2 separate regions of the Homo sapiens genome follow, and region 1 is linked to region 2. A link means that fine-mapping ties the variant in region 2 to the expression of a gene that starts in the linked region. Tissue or cell type: fibroblasts. Region 2 holds a variant in brackets; the other region holds the start of a gene. All regions are shown on one strand. Distances are between the middles of the regions.

Evidence for each region. PIP is the estimated chance that this variant, and not a neighbour inherited with it, causes the effect.
Region 1: SDK1 starts here. The variant in region 2 is fine-mapped to the expression of SDK1 in fibroblasts (GTEx, PIP above 0.99).

The regions. Positions count from the first base shown.
Region 1 is chr7:3,296,063-3,306,602 of GRCh38, forward strand. SDK1 (sidekick cell adhesion molecule 1) reads left to right here and starts at 5,190. Exons shown (of 45, transcript NM_152744.4): 1 at 5,190-5,822. The coding sequence starts at 5,525. SDK1-AS1 (SDK1 antisense RNA 1) reads right to left here. Exons shown (of 3, transcript XR_001744897.3): 1 at 6,167-10,540. RefSeq lists enhancers at 3,757-4,269, 4,270-4,781, 5,491-5,991 and a silencer at 4,667-5,216.
Region 2 is chr7:3,432,025-3,442,564 of GRCh38, forward strand. The region is part of intron 1 of SDK1 (sidekick cell adhesion molecule 1); the gene reads left to right. It overlaps LOC124901577 (a long non-coding RNA gene), which reads left to right. Exons shown (of 2, transcript XR_007060196.1): 1 at 1-2,285; 2 at 8,045-10,540. Among named protein-coding and RNA genes, the nearest start is that of SDK1-AS1, 85 kb to the left of the region's middle. The variant G/A (reference allele first, on the strand shown) is at 4,674.

The DNA of each region.
Region 1 (10,540 bases), 140 kb before region 2:
GGCAGCTGTTTAGTTTGTACTTACACTAAGAATAAATGAATGCTCATTTCCTCATAGTCTTACCACACATTTGCCATTATCAGTCAGTCCTTAAACATTTTTTACAAGCCTCGTTGCTTTAATTTTTCACTGTTAAGATCAATTTCTGGCTGGGCGCGGTGGCTCACGCCTGTAATCCCAGCACTTTGGGAGGCTGAGGCAGGTGGATCACTTAAGGTCAGGATTCAAGACCAGCCTGGCCAACATGGCAAAACCCCGTCTCTGCTAAAAATACAAAAATTAGCCGGGCATGGTGGCATGAGCCTGTAATCCCAGCTACTTAGGAGGCTGAGGCAGGTGAATCGCTTGAACCTGGGAGGCAGAGGAGGTTGCAGTGAGCCGAGATCACACCACTGCCCTCCAGCCTGGGTGACAGGTGAGACTCTGTCTCAGAAAAAAAAAAAATCAATTTCTTGGTGCATCTCTTCATTTATTTTCTCTTTATATCTCTCTGCCTGTTACTATTCTTTGGTCTTTTGTTTTTTGAGATGGAGTCTCGCTCTGTGGCCTGGCTGGAGTGCAGTGGCACAATCATGGCTCACTGCAACCTCCCAGGCTCCAGTGATCTTCCCACCTTAGCCTCGAGGGTACCTGGGACTACACACACATGATAATTTATTTATTTATATATTTTTTTGAGAGATGAGGGTCTCACTATGTTGCCCAGACTGGTCTCAAACTCCTAGGCTCAAGTGATCCTCCCTCCTTGGCCTCCCAAAGTGCTGGGACTACAGGCCTGAGCCATCACACCCAGCCTCTGCTCATTTTTCTATAGGGCTTGTTCATCTATTTTTCTTATTGACTCATAAAAGCTGTAAGTCTTATTGACTAACATAGATAGTAACATTTTCTCCAGTTTGTTAGTTTTTTTTCACAGTGCCATACAGATGCTTTTGGTTTTGAATTGGTATACAGTTCAAGCTACTGATGTTCTAGAAAGTTGCAAATTGTCCTTTTAAAATAAAAATATTTCTATCATTTAAAAAAGGTTCTCTTTTATGTGATGGCCCATAAGAAAAAGGAGGAGAAAGGACAGAATGAAGCAAAAGAGGAATGAGGGCTCTATTATATTCCTCAGACTCAACGGGATTGATGAGTGATTTTCGAACTTTCATTTACACAGGAATCACTTGGAGATCTTTGAAAATGCAGAGTATGAGTCAGCAGGTCCGGGACTGGGCTTGAGATTTTGCATGTCTAACAAGCTCCCAGGTGAGGTAGATGGCCCACGGGCCATACCTGGAGCAGCAGGCTTTAAATCACAACAAGGGAAAGCACTGCTGGTTTCATGGATCATCCTAACGACGTGAAAATTATCATCTGTTTTGAAAACTCTTCCTTCTCTCTTTTTAATTAAGCAGGGAAAATTCTAACTTCTTATTCTGGAAAGTAGGAGATGGCCAGGGCTCATTGGGGGAAGGAGAAGAAGAAGGAGAAGGAGAGGAACAGGAAGAGGAAGAGGAAGAAGACAAATAAGTGGAAGAGGAGGAGGAAGAGGAAGAAGAAGAGGAAGAGGAAGAAGATGAATAAGTGGAAGAAGAGGAGGAGGAAGAGGAAGAGGAAGAAGAAGAGGAAGAGGAAGAAGACGAATAAGTGGAAGAAGAGGAGGAGGAGGAAGAGGAAGAAGGAGGAGGAGGAGAAGAAGAAGAAGGGGAAATAATAATAATCAGTTTTCATGGAGTAACATCCCTCCACCTCATGGCCTTTAGCGTATATGGTTACAATTTTTAATGGCAAGTATGCAGGTATAAAATGCTCACTTCTTGAGGCCCTCTTGTAGGGCTGGGCAAAATGAAGTTGAGAGATTCACTGGCCTTAAGGGCAGAAATATTCCAGCCCCCTCCTGGCTGTCTCCCCTCCCCAGCATTATAAAGGGGTTTCTCTGTATTATTGTTTGAGAAAGAATAGCTGTAGTCTAAACACAGGCCCCAAAATGGTAACCTAATAGGTCCTGTGAAAAGCAACATGGTCGGGGCGAGGAAAAACAAGTCTCAGAACAGGACTCAGGAGAGCTGGATGCTTGTTCTGGCTTTAGCACGGTTGCTTCGCATGTATTAAACTTTCTAGGCTTGGCTTCTCCAACTGTAGAATGGAGATTAGAGTAGAACCTTATTTCTCAAGGCTGATATTGGGATAGGAAGAAAAAAAAATTTCTTGGAGAGGTTTCCAGACCTTCTGTAGTAACAGTGAGGTCACTGATCTGTCTTTTTTTTTTTTTTTTTTTTTTTTTTTTTTGAGACAGAGACTCACTGGGTCACCCAGGCTGGAGTGCAGTGGCACGATCTCGGCTCACTGCAACCTCTACCTCCTGGATTCAAGCGATTCTCCTGCCTCAGCCTCCTTAGTAGCTGGGATTACAGGCGCCCGTCACCACGCCCAGCTAATTAATTATTTATTTATTTATTTATTTATTTTTTAACTATAGATGGGGTTTCATCATGTTGGCCAGGCTGGTCTCATACTCCTGACCTCAAGTGATCCACCCACCTTGGCCTCCCAAAGTGCTGGGATTAAAGGCGTGAGCCACTGCACTTGGCCTGGTCACTGATCTCTTATAACCTGGTGTATACTAACTTGGCTTTCCAATTTCCAAGCAAGTTTCCACAAAGCTTTCTGCTACCTGCAAAATAAGTCATGGCAAAAGAGGCTCTGGGTAATTTTGACGTGTCCTAAAGTCAAGAAGTTGCTTGAGTTATGTTCGTGCCTATGTGGACTGGAGCGGTATATGGGCACAGGTTTCTACGTGAAAGTGGTGGATATAGATCGATACTGGAGAGGAAAAGGTTAAATGTGCAGCAAACTCAAATGGCGGGGAGAGCAAGGGTAGTTTGGGACAAGGATTGCCACGTTAGTAGAGGGAAAGGAAAACCAGCATTTACTGAGTGTGAATTATCTCACTCTGTCTACTACCCTGGAGATGGGAATTATTCCTAACTTTTTACAGGAACTTGGAGTCAGCGATTTGCCCAAATTTCACAACTACAAAGGGCGGAGCTGAGTGAGACCTCAAAGCCCCATGACTCCACTCTTGGATCACCAGCCTCTATCTCCCAGCAAAGCAGAGGTGGTTGGGGTGAAGAGGAAGGGAGGTGAGCTCCCGACCTTGGGCAAAACACTTCACTTCCTTTATTTATTTATTTATTTATTTATTTATTTATTTATTTATTTATTTATTGAGACAGAGTCTCACTCAGTCGCCCAGGCTGGAGTGCAGTAGCAAGGTATCGGCTCACTGCAACCTCCACCTCCCAGGTTCAAGCAATTCTCCTGCCTCAGCCTCCCGAGTAGCTTGGACTACAAGCGCACGCCACTACGCCTGGCTAATCATCTTCTTCTTCTGTCTTTCTTCTTCATTTTCTTCTTTCTTTTTTCTTTTCTTTTTTTTTTTTTTAACTGCAGACGAGGTTTCACCATGTTGGCCAGGCTGGTCTTGAACTGACCTCAAGTGATCCGCCCGCCTCGGCCTCCCAAAGTGCTGGGATTACAGGTGTGAGCTACCGCGCCCGGCCCACTTCTTTATGCCTCAGTTTCTCCATCTGTACCAGGGCCAGCACCTCTCACACAGCAGGTAGTGAAGCTGCTGCTGCTGCTGCCCTGGGCTGGCCTACAGTGAGTGCTCACTGCACAGGAGGTATTGCTTCCCCCCGCCCAGCAGGTTCTCATTATAATCTTGCAAGTTTGAAGAAACCCAGCCTTGCTACCAACAGAAGATAAAAACAGACATGCCTCTCTGCCTCCAGTCTCATCCCCATGTCCTTGGGGAGCTGTCCTCTTCCGGCTCGTCCCATCTATGCGCCCTCACTATATCCTCAGAACAGGGCACTCCGTGGCTCCTTTAACTTTTTTGCCCCTCCTAGCATGGTGTGGAAAGGGGGCAGATGGGAGGCCTCTTTCTGAAACCACCTCCTGTTCGGCGGCTGTACTTGGACCTCAGTTTCCCTGTTTTGTTCACGTGGTCATTGTTAAGTCTTAGGGGACGTGTACAGAGGCTAATATTGAGCCACCAATCAGTTATTTGACAAATACCATAGGCGCTCTGTGAGCAGGAGCTGGCTCCTATCCCAGACCCCAGCCCTGTGACCTGCTCTCCACTCGCCCGGGGTCTTTCTTGGCTGGGACAATAAACCTACTGCATCAGGTGATTCCTGGGGAGTCAGCCCCGTGCTGGGCTCACACCCAGCCCCTCTGCGTTCATCTCTTACATGATCTCATGCGACCATCATCACACGTCCCCAGGCTCCTCCCGGGCCAACTCCAGAGGCAGTGCGTGTCACCTCCAGCTCTCCTCCCACAAAAATGCTGGCCTTTCAGCCTCCAGTGCGCTTAGTTCACCCCATAAACTCTGCTAATGCTTACCACATGCTGAGCGTCGGCGCCCGTCCCCACCCCCAGCCCCACAGGCTCCCGGGTCCCGCCCTGGGAGACCCTCCCACTGGCCGACCCTGCCCCAAGACTCGCCCACTCCACGGTGGGAAACCTGCAATGTGTCCCTCCCTACCCCGCCCTCCTCCAGCGCCGGCCAAAAGTGACCTTGGACGCTTCTACAATGCCATATCCACTCCTCTGAACAGGAGGCGAGTTTGCACCCAGTGGTGCCTTTGGTTGCTAGAAATTAAAAACCCGATTGCGCGTGTTTGCAATTACGGTAACTTGGCGCGTCACCCCCAAGCACTGAGCTAGCTGGTGGTAGCCGGGCGCCTCTCGGGGCGCGCCCTATTCCGCCCTCGGCCCTGGGCTGCCGCACGATCTGCGCGTCCTGCTGCACCTGAGCCCTTCCCACTCGGGCGCCCGCACCGCTGCGGGGCCGGGCGAGGATGCACCACCCCCGCCCGCGAGCCCGCCACGGGAGCGCGTGCCGAATCGACGCCGCCTGCAGTCCCCACTACGGGTCCCTAGGGGGCGCAGCCGGCGCGGGAAGCCGCCCGAGCCAGGCGCCGCGGCCGGCACAAAATTGCAGGCGGGCGGGCGCCGCGACTTTGAAAACAAGCGAGGGCCTGGGGGGCGGGCCCTGGGAGCGGGCGCCGCCTCCCTCGGCCAATCAACGGCGGGCGGCGGGCGGCGGGCGCGGGCGGCGCGTGCGGCCGGGCTGTGAATGGGGAGCGGCGGCCGCGGCAGCTGAGGGCGAGCGCGACCGCGACGTGCGGGCGGGCGCACTTTCTTCTCAGCGCCGGGCGGGGGCGGCGGCGGCGGCGGCTCCTCCGCGCCCGGCGGACCCCTCGGAGCTAGCGCGGCGGGCTCGGGACTGCGTGAGCGCCGGACGCGAATTTCCCCCGTTGACAACTTCTTCTCGCCCGGCTCGTCCCCGGCCCGCGCCGCGCCCCTCACGCGGGGACCCAGGACGCCGCCCCTCAGCGCTGGGCGGCCGCTCACCTCGGGCCGGGGGGCGCCGCGCCTCCCGCGGAGTGGCCGCGCCCGCTCGGAGCCGTCCCGCCTGTCCTGCCCGCCCGTCCGTCCGGCGCGGCGCTCGGGGTGGCGGCTGCTCGGCATGGCCCGGGGCGCCCGGCCCTCGGCGGCCGGTGGCGGCGGCGGCGGCGCGGAGCCCCCTGAGCGCGCGGGCCCCGGGCGGCCGCGGGGATCCCCGCCCGGCCGCGCCCGCCCCTCGCTGGCGCCGCGCCCCGGCCCGGAGCCCTCGCGACCCCGGGCGGCGCCCGAGACCTCCGGCGGGGACACGGCGGGCGCGGGGCGGTGCGGCGGGCGGCGGGCGGCAAAGTTGGGGCCGGGCCGCCGCGGCTGGTGGGCGCTGCTGGCGCTGCAGCTGCACTTGCTCCGGGCGCTGGCGCAAGGTAGGTGCGCGCGGGGTCGCGGGCCGGGGGCGTCGCCTCGGGGCGCGGAGGCGCGAACTTGAGCAGCGAGAGTGTGTCCGGGGTCCCCCCGCTTCCCGGCCCGGGTCGGGATGCGCCTTGCTGGGGGCTCTAGGGAGCCCAGGGGCTCCTCCACGCCAGACTCGGAGGAGAGGGAAACGGAGCCCCGTAGAGCCTGCACCCCGTCTGCTACTTTGCGTTTTATTTTTTTTATACCGCAGTAGCACAAACAAAAATTTTTAAGTTGAGGACCCATTTCTCAGCTCCTTAAAAGGATGCCCGAGTCCCCTTCCCATTGCATGGATGAAAAAGGGGCTGGTCTGTACCTGAGTCTTCGCACCGCAGGGTCTGGTTTCCGGTGAGTGACATCCAGAAGACTTGGAAATATCAAGTGCCAGTCGCTGTGAAAAGCCTTTTCCAGCCCCTCCCCAGGGCCTCGTCCTCTCCCCAGCCCCCGCCTGCTCCTGACTCCCCCAAGTCCCAAAGCCCGACCCCAAGTGGGTGCTGCGCGGCCGGTGGAGCAAAACTTTCAGTGCCCACAGCTTTTGCACTTGGCTTTGTTTTTCTCCCTCTATTGGCTTCTGTTTAGAATACAGTGGTGAGCTCTGAAATAGGGAAAGAGGATCTGCTGAATGGAAATGACCTTTTGAAACGAGAGATGGGATCTCTTGTGAAACGAGCTTTCCTTCCCAAATCTGGGCTTCCCTCCACCCCCTCCCCGCCCCCGACAAAACCCGTAACGTACCCCTGCCAGCTAGCATCGTTTTCTTTTGAAGTTTGCTGGTCTTTAAACCAAAACACCCCCCTCAACCCAGAAATAACTATTTTAATACGTCCTTTGGTAACGTCTTTAAAACACATTAGTGAACTGGTTTTGCTGATGGTAGTTTTAGGAAAATTAACTTAGTTGTATTCCAAGATACAGCTAACGAACAATCATGGTAAGGAACTCGATATTCTGAGATTGGCGAAGATGAGAGCATTAAACTTAAATTAGCTGTGTTCTGTGTCCTGTGAAGATGATTTATGTGTAGTAACATGACTTAAATGTTGTAACATTTTAAAGGTCTGAGCTCAAAACTATCATCCAATAGCTTAACAACGAACTCATACTTTTTTTTATTGATGCTTATGTAACGTTATCTAAATTGTGCCCCTCCACCCCCCTCCAGCTTTCATAAATGCTCCCTCTTATGTTTTACTACATGAAAACAAATTGCCATATTTCTGGTTAATTTAACTCCTCCATTACTTGGAAAATTTTCATTTCACTTATTTGTGCTTTTTGCTTAATGACTTACTCTGGAAGAAAAGCATTTATTAAGTCATTTTGTACAGTGGGATCTGTAGATTGTTAGAGCAACCAGGTTCAAGTGAAGAAATCTAAATCACTTAGGATGACCTTTAAAATAATGTGTTTATTAAGTTTTCTTTTTTTAAACAGTGACTTGCATTTTGCACTAAGACCTGTACGTTCATACATTTGAAGATTGGTGCACAGACTGAAATGGTGGGGAAAAAATCTGCCAGTGGCTTTGTTTTGAAGTATATTACATAGATTTCAAGTTTTTATCAGTTGCACTTTGAAGGTTGTGTAAAGCATTGCATTTTAACAACTGAAATGTTAATGAAAATACATTTTAAAAATATATTAAGGCAACAACCGAACTTTGTTAGGAATATTTTATTCCTTTTTGGCAGTAAAAACATTGGTACCTGTTTTACATTTATATGGCTTATGAAAGTGTACAGATCTTTTAGTGTAAAATTTCAGATAGGTTGTCACAAATTTTAAGTTCATTGACGGGTTTCTGTTCTCTTTGCTCTGTGAAATGTGTAATATATCCATCTTTTTTTATATCGTATTGAAAATTCATATTACAGAGGAGATGTCACCATTTGACAAAAGCTCATGTATCTTGAAAATGAAAATTCTGGTGCTGTTATAAGAGATTTCTGATGGGATGATGAGTTGGTCATATGTGCAGGAGTGCATTCTCTTGAATCTTATCAGATGTAACATTCTAAATGGAATAGTTACCACTACGTTGGAGCGCCTCCTAAGTACCATATTATTACATTGTAGCTAGGTGAAGCTATGACTAATTTCTCTGCACCTCATGTAAGTAGGCTAGGTCGTGTATTTTGAGAAAAAACGTGCGACATTGATCAGTAAAAGTTACATTTTTATAACCTAGGTTACAGACCCTCTATGTAACTGATCATGATGGGAACCGCCAGGTTCAGGTCTTCCAAATGTAACTTTAATATGCCCTGGAGTTTCTTCTTTCTATGCGGTGATGAGAATTTCTGAGTTGTATGCTCTGCTTATTGCTGTGTGTTTAATTGCTTGTGACTTTCCCGGATTCCTAAAAAGCCAAGTCTTTAATTCTGGAAGGCAGGTGGCAACACATGCTTTCTTTATGCCATCCACCAAGGAGCCAGCTGTGAGTGGTTTGGAAGGATGACTTCTGAGGCTAAAGATGTATAAGCAGTCTTATGTGTGAAGTCCGTGGTGCCTTTAGCTTTACTGCTGGACTCTTTACAGGCTTACTGATTCTGGCAGTGTTCAGTAGACCTCCTAGATTCAGCTTGCATTCCTCAGGCCTAGAAAGGATAGGAATGTTCTTGTCCATGGGGCTGTTTGTTCATAGTCCTCAGTTTCTCATTTGAAATTGTCTCCACTTGGACCTATGGTTCTCCAGCTTTGGTATGTGTTAGAATCACCTGGGGAATTTGATGAAGCTGTAGAGTACCTACTCTTCCTCTTCCATGAGCCACATTTGCTTTCCATGTGATTATAATACACATTGGAATTCGAGAACTACTCACTTATTACCTTGTGTTTCCCCCTATTCCAGACACCTGCTGACTTCCTGGAAACTCTCTAGCCCAGTGTTTCTCAAACTTGGTTGCACATTGGAATCACCTGGAGCTTTAAACTTCTGATGCCTGGATGTCACTCCTAGAATTGGTTTTAATAAACTTGAGGTTTGATCTGGGCATCAGGATGCTGAGACACCCCCTCCTCCCTCCAGGTGATTCTCATGTTTAGCCAAGTTTGAGAACCACTGCTCTAATGGTTTTACGTGAGGCCACATGGCTTGATTTCCCTTTCATGCCTTCCTGGGCTTATTGTCCTCCCCCAACAATTGCAGTGACTTTTATGGACCTTGGGCCTGTGTTCACTTACACCTGTTCCAGGTTCATGATTTGAAACTCAACAGAGTACACTAGCTTTTCACTTATGTATCGTTTATTCCTACTGAAACTGTTGAGCCCCTGCTTTGTGCTGCCTGAGGTGTACATCGGAATCACTGGTGAAAATTTAAAATACAGTTATCTGGACTCCACCTCAGACCAGTTGGTTCTCAGAAGCATGCATTTAAAAACTCCTCAAGTGATTCTTGTATGTTTGTGTTACTTTTTTTATTTTTTATTTTTAATCCTCGTGTTGGTTAATCCCATAATGTCACTCAATTTCTCTGTCATCCTTAGCCTGATTTTTCTGTGGTCTGGGTCACTTTTCTCAGGCCAATTCCCAGCCTTGGACAGGGTGTACTAATTAGGCATTTCTGCCACTTGTTTGCTAGAGTGTTGAGTTCACTACAAATCTAGCTTCCTTTTGGGCCCATGTTGCTTTCCATTAATCCAGAAGTACTTTGCTTCCCCTCCTCCTAACCTACTCCCTTTACAACTTTGTAATTTGAGTTTCAACTGGAACTTGAGTTCTAGACTCCCTTACTTGAATATCATCTTAATAAAGAGTCTTGCTTAGTGAGTGCTCAGATAGTTAATTAAATTTTATTAGGCCACTGGGTATTTAACAGACAACTGGTCTCTTGGTTGGTTACTGTCTTCCAAATCCAACAATAAGCAGTTATTACCCTCTATGCAGTCTGCATAGCCACCTGTAGCTGTCCTTTATTGAACCTTTACGTGCCAAGCACTAAGTGCTCATTTATTCTTCACAGCAGCTCCTGAGAGGTAGACAGCATTTTTGTTCTCATCTTACCTATGGGAAAACTGAGGCATTCAGATGTTAACTAACTTTCCTGAGGTCCCAGGACCAGGAGTGGTGATGCCAGAATGAAAAGTCTGATCCAGAGTCTGAACATAACTTGAGTTCATAACCCCTGGGCTGGAGCGTTTCCCATGTAGCCTCTGCCTTTATAAGGAGAGGGAAAAATGGGCAGCAATCAGATCTGTACCAAAGGGAAAGACGGTGGTTGATATTTTCTAAAAACAGTATTGAGTAATCTGACCTCAAGTTTTAGATAAACCTTATTTACGATTATGATTGCAAAATAAAAATTACATAATTTGGAAAATAGAGATGAGGGATGTATGTAACCCCTTCCATCTACACATTCGTCTCCTCTAAGAAAATGACTATCACCATTTTGATGTATTCCCCTACCCCAATTTTTCTTTCATAACATAACATGAATTCCAGCTTCATGATGGTCTGTTGGCAGAGATTAGACCACCCCAGAATGGACTACTGGGAGTGCACCAACTATTTATTTGAGGAACATTTGGAAAATTCTTTTATCTGCACTGAAGTGTATGAATTTGAGTCCTTTAACTAAAGGAGGTGGAGTTTGTAAGGTACTGATCTTTTATTAGTTTGCCTTAGCACACATTTTATGTAAACAGTTAAGTTTAGGCTATACTGGGGTTTATACCTAACCAGAAGT
Region 2 (10,540 bases):
AACATGACTTTTTGTCTCATAAAATTATGACAATAACTCAGTCAGTCTGTGTGAAATACTTTGTAAACAGAGCTTTGCAGGCTGCAGTAAAAAAAAAAAAATATATATATGTATTTTATATTTAAAAAATATATATTTTTATATATATATATATCCCCATACCTGAAGATTTTGGGGTGAACTTTTTCCAGGTTAAGAATGACATTAGTGCCAACTGTGCTGTATTTTGGCTATCGTGATGACATTAGTATCATCAAATTGGTCGTGGCATTGGGACACTGGCAGCATGTCATCCTGCCCCAGTCAAGAATGACTGTAGGCAGTTTCAGTTTATCTGTTGCTACTAGAATTTTGATGTAGCAGTGTCAAAAGGTTGATTTGTACTATGGCAATCTTATTCCTAGATGTGAATTCTCCAGGGGGCAAAATATCCTAAAAGCTAACATGTAAACAAGCTCAAAGGATTAATGTAGTAGGAAGAAATAGTAGTTTGTTATATATTCATGTTGAATTTAGGTAACTATTTTAGTTATTTAAAAGATTACTACCGAAGGGAAGAAACATATTTTGCTAGGTTTCGCATAGAAAAACCTGTGTCTGGCTCAAGGTAATACTTGAATTTTAATAGGAACCTAGGTTTGCTGTCTTCCCAGTGTAGACTGTAGCCTGCACTGTCATAGAAGAGTGTTGATTGATCCGGTTGTGAAATAGATGGATACCCACATTTAAGTTGCTTTTGAAAGAGTCAGTTTCCCTCCACAAATATGGCAACAAAATTCTTTTATAATCCACAAATAGAATTTTTCTTCATCTGAAAGAGATTTCTCCTAAACCAGCCTGAAAAATTGCTTTTCTAGGAAGAATTTCATGGCTGAGCCTCATTCTTGTACAGATTCATAGCATGTTATTACTAACTTGTAAATATTCACTTACAGAAGAGAGTGACTAGAATCTTTGAATTCTTTTATATTGGTGTTGAGGTTTCTATCCAAGTTACGCAGTTTTTCATTCATTTTAGAGGAAGATTTTCTCAAACAAGGATTCTTCGTGGTTGCAAAACCTATCCCCAGAGATTCCAGTCAACATAATTCAAGTTGACCAGTGGATTCTAAGTGTGACAGTACGGTGTTTAGCAAGTCCAAGTGAAACCAGATGGAGGTCAGAGAATATGCCTGGCTTCGTCCACATTATCTAGTTATCTGCCTCAACCCTCTAGTTTCAACCAGCTTCAAGTGAATGTTAAACCAGACTGCTGTAATCTACACATGCTTTCACACTTCAAAAGGTGTGTGTTAGTTGATATTTGGTTTAGTCATTTCGTCTCTTGAGAGGAGGGGTTGAAGTTTTTATTTCCAGTAGTATTTTATTTTATTTTATTGGATGAAGTTGTTTTTATTTCTTTTCTCCAGAAGAGGTAAGGAAGGTTCCTGGATTATTGTATTTGGTTGGTAAACTCTCCTCTTTTTCTCTTTCTGTGTCTGCATCTCCTCCTTTTTCTCTTTCCCTATTTCTTCTTCCTCTTCCTTAGGTTTATATGAAATAGAAACAATTTTCTAGCACAATGACTAAGTGAATTGCTACATTAAAGACTGGCTGGCCAAGAAATGGTTAATCTTTGTATGGCAGGCTTTAGGGACCAACATCAAATACAAACATGTTGGAAATCTTTTTGTCATTCCAGCTCAATTGATTCAGAAAAATTTTAAGAGCAATAGTCAGTGCTTGGAGGAAAAAAGAATACTATTGTAAATTTGAGACGTTCTCATCTTGAACATGGCTCTTGTAAATCACAAGCTTGACAACCTTACAGAGTACATACAAGCCGTGGTTGACTTCAGAAATATGTGTTTTAGACACAGTTTTACATGAAAGTCATGATATTGTAAATATAATGATTTATTAATAAGTTTAACTTTTGTTAGGATACTTTGCGCATAACTACCGCAATGCATTAAGAAGGAAGTGTTAAGAATTTTCATCCCACAGATCTGATGATTTAAAGTAGTGTTCCATTTGTGCAGTCAATAGAAGGAGGTGCAACAATGAAACAGAAACAAGGCAAAATCTATCCATATGGGCTCATCTTATGACCTGTTCTTGCTGGTAATTTTGGCGTATTTTGTGATGATTTTTTTTTCCTCTCTTTTTGAAGGCTCAGTAGCTGTACTACTCACTCTACCAGGCCAAAGAGTCAGCGTGATGGAGAGAAGATTAGGAAATCATGTTTTAAAATTCTTCTAATGCAGATGAATATGTCAACATGATTTTTCTTTCATCAGGAGCCTGTAAGAGAATTTCCACCTTGTTCGCCTTGGTTTTGGTATATGAGGTGGACTTTTTACTTAGGTGTCCTCCCTGTTGTTTTGAGGCTATGTGCCCTACGCCACTGTGGTTTACCCTGAGGAAGTTTGCGTAGCTCGCGTGCCAACCACTTCTCTTGGAGAAGACGGAGTGTCATAACTACAGCTAACATTTATTAAGGATCTTGCATGTTTTTCATTTTAATCCTCACAGCTCCTTAAGTATTATCTCCATTTTGTAGATGGGACATCTCTGGCTCAGGCTCAAAGATGTTAAGTAGCTCACCTAAGGTCATTTTGCCAGCTAAGTAACCAAGCTGGGGTTTCAGCCCAAGCCAACTTTACCGAGTGTGGATGGTTTTAACCAGTTCTCTCGATTTGCCTCCCTGTGAGGTGTGAGTTGTTGCCATCATTAACCCAGGCCTATCTGCTTTTGGGGTTCAGAGTTGGAACCATCTGCAGGGAGTGTAGATAGAATCATGGGGGGGGACAGAGCACACCCTAGTGGAGCCTGCCAAGACTCCTCATTGAGCCCAGAAAACTGAGATACAGGTTAGAATTGGCCATTTCATCGCAGTGTTTATTTCATGTTTTCTCATCTCACAGGTGAGTTTTCTAGAGGAAAGATGATGAAGTAAAATTTTACAACAATTTTTGAATACTTTTCCTAACTGTCAAATCTCCGTCTGGATCCCATTAATAAGATACAAAGTTATATCCCAAAAGTACCAAATTATGTAATTCTTTTTCTGATTAGTTCATTGCAACTTGTTCAGCTTCAAATAAATTAAAGATTTCTTAGTTATTGTGATTCTTAATAATTTTGCAAAAGTCTCTGTATTTTTTTTTTTGAAATCTTTTTCTCATTATTTATGGAAGATAGTGATTGGGAGAAAGCAAAATATTAGGCATTAAAACAGATTATACTGGAGAGATCTATTCCAGTGTGATCACCAAATCCACCTATTTTGATACTTGACTTATGAAGGGGACTGCCTTTTTTTTTTTTTTTTTTTTTTTTTTTGAGACGGAGTCTTGCTTTGTTGCCCAGGCTGGAGTGCAGTGACTTGATCTCAGCTCACTGCAACCTCTGCCTCCCGGGTTCAAGCAATTATCCTGCCTCAGGCTCCTGAGTAGCTGGGACTACAGGCACAGACAGTCACGCCCAGCTAATTATTATGATTATGATTATGATTATTATTATTATTATTTTGTATTTTAGTAGAGACGGGGTTTCACCGTGTTGTCCAGGCTGGTTTCGAACTCCTGAGCTCAGGCAATCCGCCCGCTTCGGCCTCCCAAAGTGCTGGGATTACAGGAGTGAGCCACTGCACTCTGTGGGGGCTTTTAAAGAGGAAGTGAAGGGTAACTCATCTCTATCCTACTTTACATGCCCCACCTAAGTCCAACTCCCACTGCCTGTCTTCTAAGGGACATCTTGTGGCTTGTTCTCTGCTCTGCTCGTATTCAGTCTCTACGTCCCTCATGCTTTCTCATGGATTTACAATGATTACTTACTCTCAAACTTATATTTCCAGCCCTAACCTCTCCAGTGATCATTTGTTAACAAGATTGTGTTAAAGGAAGCAACAAAGGTTCTTCTATTGGATGTAGTTGAAAAAGCAGAACTGTTGCTCTGGCCTAAACATTAACTTTGGAGAGGTTTAAATTCTGTTTAGAAGTTATAAATGAGCTTAATATCATGTGATTTGCATGATAAGTTATTTTAAAGAGTTTAAATCCATGATTGTTCAAAATAGGTTGTTTTATTTTCAATATAATATGGTTCTTAATTGTAACATTAATGAACACTGAAGACATTTTTAAGATTCATTTATGTAAAGTGATTTGATGAAGTAAGCTGACATTTGATGGACTTAGTGGAAGTTTAGACCCAATTTGCATTTCAGTGGTATTTTATGGCTGACTTTAGAAAACTTTTTAGATAGGATTTCTCGGTAAATTAAAGGATTTAGAGGGATGATTACGAAATAATTGATTAAAAAGTGTGCAATATTGGTTTTCATTGAACTTAAGCTTGTATGGGTTCAATTTAAAACCTAATTCAATACATTTTAGATTTTATATTTCCCTGAACCTCTTCTGCTGTATTAATTTTGTCATGCTTGTCATTCTAATCTAATGATGATTTAATGTTTGCAAACCTGAATAAATCTGTATGCAAGGAGTTTTGCTGTGTTTTTAATCAATGAAGATTGAAATTTGGCAACTGAGGTGATAAAAAATGAAAAATTTTAAATAGAAAATGAAAATAATGATTATACTTTAGAAAGTACTCTTATTAATGTTCTTGGCTATGAACCATGTAATATTTTTCTCTTATTTTTATCGTGTAATATTTTGAAGGTGACT[G/A]AACCTTAAAAGAAGTAATTGCCACTAAATCGTGAAGAATGTTTAAATTAGAACAGATTCTTTGTCCTCACTGTCTTCCCCTTTCCCTGAAATCTGTAGTCTAGAGTTGTGAATAAGAGCCAGAAGAATGTTAAACTGCCTTTTAAAAACTCGTCTACCCTCCCCAAGAACCTACATAGACAATAGAATGTTCTGTAATGAAAGTGTATCTTTACCTCATTATTTATTTATTTTATTGAGCAAAAAATGTAGAACATAGAATGTCTAACGGATTAGTCACAATAAAAAAAATTTCCTGGGTTATATATGTAAGGGGCAGCGGCTGCTCCTCTATCAGTCCAGGAGAGCCTGGTCTGATTTCACATTGCTTTTCTTTCCACATGATCTCATGACACTAAAAGACGATTAATACATCCTTTAAAAATCAATACGGGACATTTTACTGTAGTCCTTCACCTTTATTGTTCAGTACCCTTCAGGGGTGAAAGGAGATATTCCAATGCAAAAAATATGTCTGAAAACCTGAGTGGTAAGTAATAAAAGTTTTTTTTTCTCTTAAAAAGTCTTATAACATTGTTATTTCCCAGATTTGAGGGGTGGGCCTTGGGGTGGAATTAAAAAATCAGTGTAATCATTTGTAAGGACAAAATGCGAGTTTCTATAAAGAATGTTTTAGCATAATGTCACTAATGTTTTGCAGTGTGTAGAGAGCAAACTTTAAAAAAAGATGTGAAAATTTACAAACCAGTAATCCTCTATTTCATGTGCCAGCAGTCAAAATTACGTGTGATCGGCTGGGTGCAGTGGCTCACACTTGTAATCTCAGAGCTTTGGGAAGCTGAGGTGGGAAGATTGCTTGAGGTCAGGAGTTTGAGATCAGCCTGGGCAACAGCAAGACCCCTTCTCTACAAAAAATAAAGTTAGCTGGATGTGATGGTGCGCGCCTGTAGTCCCACCTATTTCAGGGGGCAGGGCTAGGAGTTTCAGGTTTCAGTGAGCTGTGATCGTGCCACTGCACTCCAGCCTGGGTGACAGAGTCGGATCCTGTCTCTGCCAAAAAATTAATAATACTAAAAAAATTAGATATGATTAAGGATACCAAAAAATTATTCAGATACCTTAGTGGAAGCTTTGGCTGAATAGAAGTTCCATCTTTTGTAGTACTGAAACCAAGTGAAGGGATTACGTAGTTGACATCTCTGAAAGAGAGAACGCAGTGGTAATGAGAATACTCCCCCTACGTTTGTGTATGAGCCTTGGCAGTTTCTTTTACACTCTCTCATTTAATCCTCTAAGACCTGAGACATTGTTGGGGCAAGTGGAATTATTCTGCATTTTATAGATGAAGAAATGGACTTGGAATAATTAAGTTATTTACAGCTAACCCGCACCCCAGATCTCTTGACCTAGCCCCCTGCATCCTGCCTTTGCCCCAGAGTGCTTTTAATGTTCTGCATTGCATGGTCTTTTTGTTCATTTTATTTTATGTATCATAGTTAATACTAAACTGAACGTTTGCTGCTAAGACCTATATTATTTTATATTCCCAATGAATATGACTTCTGCATAAAAACATTTAACTAGGGTAATCATTTTATAGTATGTGCCTGTTGTCTCTGCTATATCTATCACCTTCATGTGAAGACAGAGAAAATAGAATATGCTGTGTATTCGAAATAATTTCTTCTTTACAATGATGTATTCTAGATTCTAACATTTACATATGAGAGAAGCTTCATAAATGTTACGTTTTCTGTGGCCGCTATTTCTGTCTTATCTGTGCTGTCTACACAGTGAGGACAGCTGCAGAGACACTGCCAGTCTCATGAAGTGTCCATTGTGAAGGCCCATGTGTCAGTGCTGCTGATGGCATGCAGGAGTTGGTCAGTAGGATGGTTAAGAACATGGGCTCTGGAGTGGACGGTGTCTGGCTTCAATCTGGGGCTGTCACTTAGTTGGTGTGGGACCTCTCATCTCTATTGCCAACCCAAGTTTTTGATTCTTTCTTTCCTCAGTAAACTCTTAATCTTTCTGTCCTTGGAATCTTCTCCTTTCACTTCAAACAACTCATCTGTCTTTATCCTGAAAAGTTTATACTTTACTAAGTTCCATCATTGGCAGCAACCCTGTTTTCTTCCCCTTTGTATTAATATTTTTTTTTTTTTTTTTTTTGAGATGGAGTTTCACTCTTGTTGCCCAGGCTGGAGTGCAGTGGTGCGATCTTGGCTCACTGCAACCTCTGCCTCCTGGGTTGAAGTGATTCTCCTGCCTCAGCCTCCCGAGTAGTTGGGATTACTGTTGCCTGCTACCACGCCCAGCTCACTTTTGTATTTTTAGTAGAGATGGGGTTTTACCACGTTGGCCAGGCTGGTCTCAAACTCCTGACCTCTCGTGATCAGCCTGCCTCAGCCTCCCAAAGTGCTGGGATTACAGGTGTGAATCACCATGCCCGGCCCCCCTTTCTATTAATTATCCAACATCTCAAATGTGCAGTTCATCACATTTTTGGGGTGGTGGTTAGACACAATATAGTTAACCTATTTAGATAAATAAACTCTTTTATTTCCCCTGAGTGAACATTTCATCTAAAACGTGTGTCGCTTTCTTGCTTAAAAACCAATAAAGCTAATGTTTCTCAAGTCATCATATATGAGTAGCATGCAAGCTCCGGATGCAGCTGTTCCTCTAGAGACTACTGTTGCGCTCCTTACAAGCCTCTAGAGCACTAGTGAAGAGTAATGTTAGATTGTTTCGGGTTTGGTCAACCTTTCCTAAGACTCAGTGGACAGCAATCAGTTAATGTGCCAAGAAGCATAAGCTAAATCCAGATTGCAACATACTACTCATTCTGAATCTGTAAGGGAATGCCTCTGTGAGTCACTGTTGTGGGAATGTCCTGGGATGGCATAGTTAATACTTTCTAATGGGATTTAAAAAGTCAGTACATTTCTCTTTTTGAATTTGTTTCTTAATGATCTGATGCACTTTTGGATAAGATACAGCTTGCTTTATAGAACAGAAAAAACATTGTCATTTATACATGATTTAGCTTTATGATCATGATTTAAAGCCACCAGCTTTGTGGGAGGAAGATAGTGAGAATGGCCATGACAGCTTTAACTACACCCTTGAAGACCTCCTTGCTTACTAGAGGGCACTGTGCTGTCCTCAGATGCCCTGAGGCAGGTCAGATTGGGATAATAATTACATTAACTCCCAAACTACCCTGTGCTGGACTTTTTTTTTAAGTTATAGCTCTATGGAGATATAATTGAAATATAGTAAATGGGAAATATTTAAGATATATAATTTGATATGCTTTGACATATTCACAGTAGTCCCCTCTCACCTGCATATTCATTTTTTTGTAGTTTCAGTCACCTGTGGTCCGAAAACATTAAATGGAAATCCGGAAGTAAATAATTCATCAGTTTTAAATTGTGCACCGTCCTGAGTAGTGTGATGGAATCTCGCACCATCCCTTGTGCCCTGTAAAATGAAGGTGTATTCCAGAGAACAAAGGAAGGATGGAGCTTTTATAGAGCATCTTTCTGCCCAGGTTTGCATTCAGGTATATTTTTTCAAATGAAGGAGTCCACCTTGCTTAGTTCAGGTTGCTCAGTGCAAGTGATTTCTGATTGGTTGGTGCAGGCTATACAGTCTGTTGGTTCAGGTGGCCTGAACAGGAATGGTAAGCTGCGAAGGTTCGGAGTTAAACAGATGTGTAGGTTTTCTGGAAACTTGGGGTACATGTGTGACCATTAGACTCAGTTAGCCCCTCAGGATTCATCTTGAGGGATTTGCTCTTTGAGGTTCACAGTGATCAGATCAACTGTTGCAGTATCTCAGTGCTTGTGTTCAAGTAACCCTTATTTTAATTAATAATGACCACAAAGTATAGGAGTAGTGTTGTTGGCAATTAGGATGTGCCAGAGAGAAGATAGAAAGTGCTTCCTTTAAATGAAAAGGTGAACGTTCTTGACTTAAGAAGGAAAGAGAAAAATATGCTGAGGTTGCTAAGATTAAGAACAAATCTATCCATGAAATTGTGAAACAGGACAAGTAAATTTATGCTGGTCTTGCTGTTGCACCTCAAACTGCAAAAGTTATGGCCACAATGTGTATTAAGTGCTTAGTTAAGGTGGAAAGGTAAATTTGTGAGTGGAAGATACGAACCAAAAAGATGTTCCAATTGACAGCAATGTGTTGTGCCAGAATCATTCAGCCTATATGACGACTTGAGCAAGGGATCCCTTGAAATGAGTTACACCAAGTGAGGGATAGTTACACAGATTCAAGAATACAGATAATCAGTAGTAGCCTAATGCTGCGTCACAATGCATACGTCTTTCACCCTACTTCATCTCATTACATAGGCATTGTACCATGTCACATCATTACAAGAAGAAAGGTGAGTATAGTACAGTGAAATATTTTGAGACAGCCCATGTTCACATAACTATTATTACAGTATGTTATAATTCTATTTTATTACTAGTTATTGTTAATATTTTATTTTATGATTTATAAATTAAACTGTATCATAGGTAAATATGAATAGGAAAAAACAGTATATATAGGGTTCAGTACTATCTGGTTTCAGGCATTGACTGGGGCCTTTGAATGTATCTCTTGCAGATAAGGAGGACTCTTGTACATCATGACATGTGTGGATCCAAAATCTCAAAAAAACAAAAAACAAACAAAAAAAAACCAAAATCTCTTTTTGTGTGTGTACATGAATTGTTCCAGCACCATTTGTTGAAAAGGCTTCCCTTCCTTCACTGAATTGCCTATTCACTTTCTTGGAAATCACTTGTCCATGTATGTGTGGATCTATTTTTGGACTCTGTTTTGTTCCGTTGATACATTTGTGTCTCTTTGCAACCACTCTATTTTGATTGCTGTCACTTCATCATAATTCCTGAAGTCAGGTATCATTAGCCTCCCAACTTTGTTTTCCTTTTTAGAAACAGCTTGTTAGTTTCTACCAAAAGATATCCTGAGATTTTGACTGGGATTGCATTGGATCTTGTAAATCAATTTGGGTAGAATAGACATCTTAACAACATCGAGTCATTTCTGAGTCTCTCACATGTAAAACCATTATCTGCGTTTAAAATGTAAACCACTCAGTGTCACCGATCATAAACCAAAAGTGATACTTAGGGTACCTTGAAATTACATTAAGCAGAACACTGGGAATTGGTCTTTTTGCTTGATTTGCCTGAGTGATTCTCCACAAAATCCCCACTTAATATGATAGGTATGAATACGGGATGCCTTATCCAGAGCAGCTCTCCACAAGCATCCTCACGCCACAGATGCCAGTTGACCGTTACGTGTACTCACCTAGCCTGCTGGTACCTGCCAGATGGTGGGCATTTTGGGTGAGATTATGATAGATTTAAGCCAGAGGTTCAGGAATATCCACATTCTCCAAAAAAGAAGATTAAGCCATTATTATTGGGAGCAGCCTAATTCTAGTTATGAAGGAAAGAGATCAGGGTGCCATATGTACTTAGATAGCCATGTCTTTTATAGCACATAGCCTTTCATGTTAAAGCTCCGCATTTTTCTAAAGGAGTATTGATTATAGTAAGGAAGCCAAGGTTCAACTCGTGTATGTGTCAGGTAGCTGGATCATTCATTACCACCATAGGTGACACCCATGTTGATCAGTTACATAAAGACCACAAATGGAATGGTAACTGGGTCATTGCAAATTAACCCTTTCTGAAAGACAGTTCAGGACATATTTATCCTTGAGAGTGAGCCTACACTATCCTCCTAAGACCTCTCTTTTAAGTGGAGAATATACATTTTGGAAACAAGGTTGTATTGTGGTTGAGGGCATGAAGTCAACC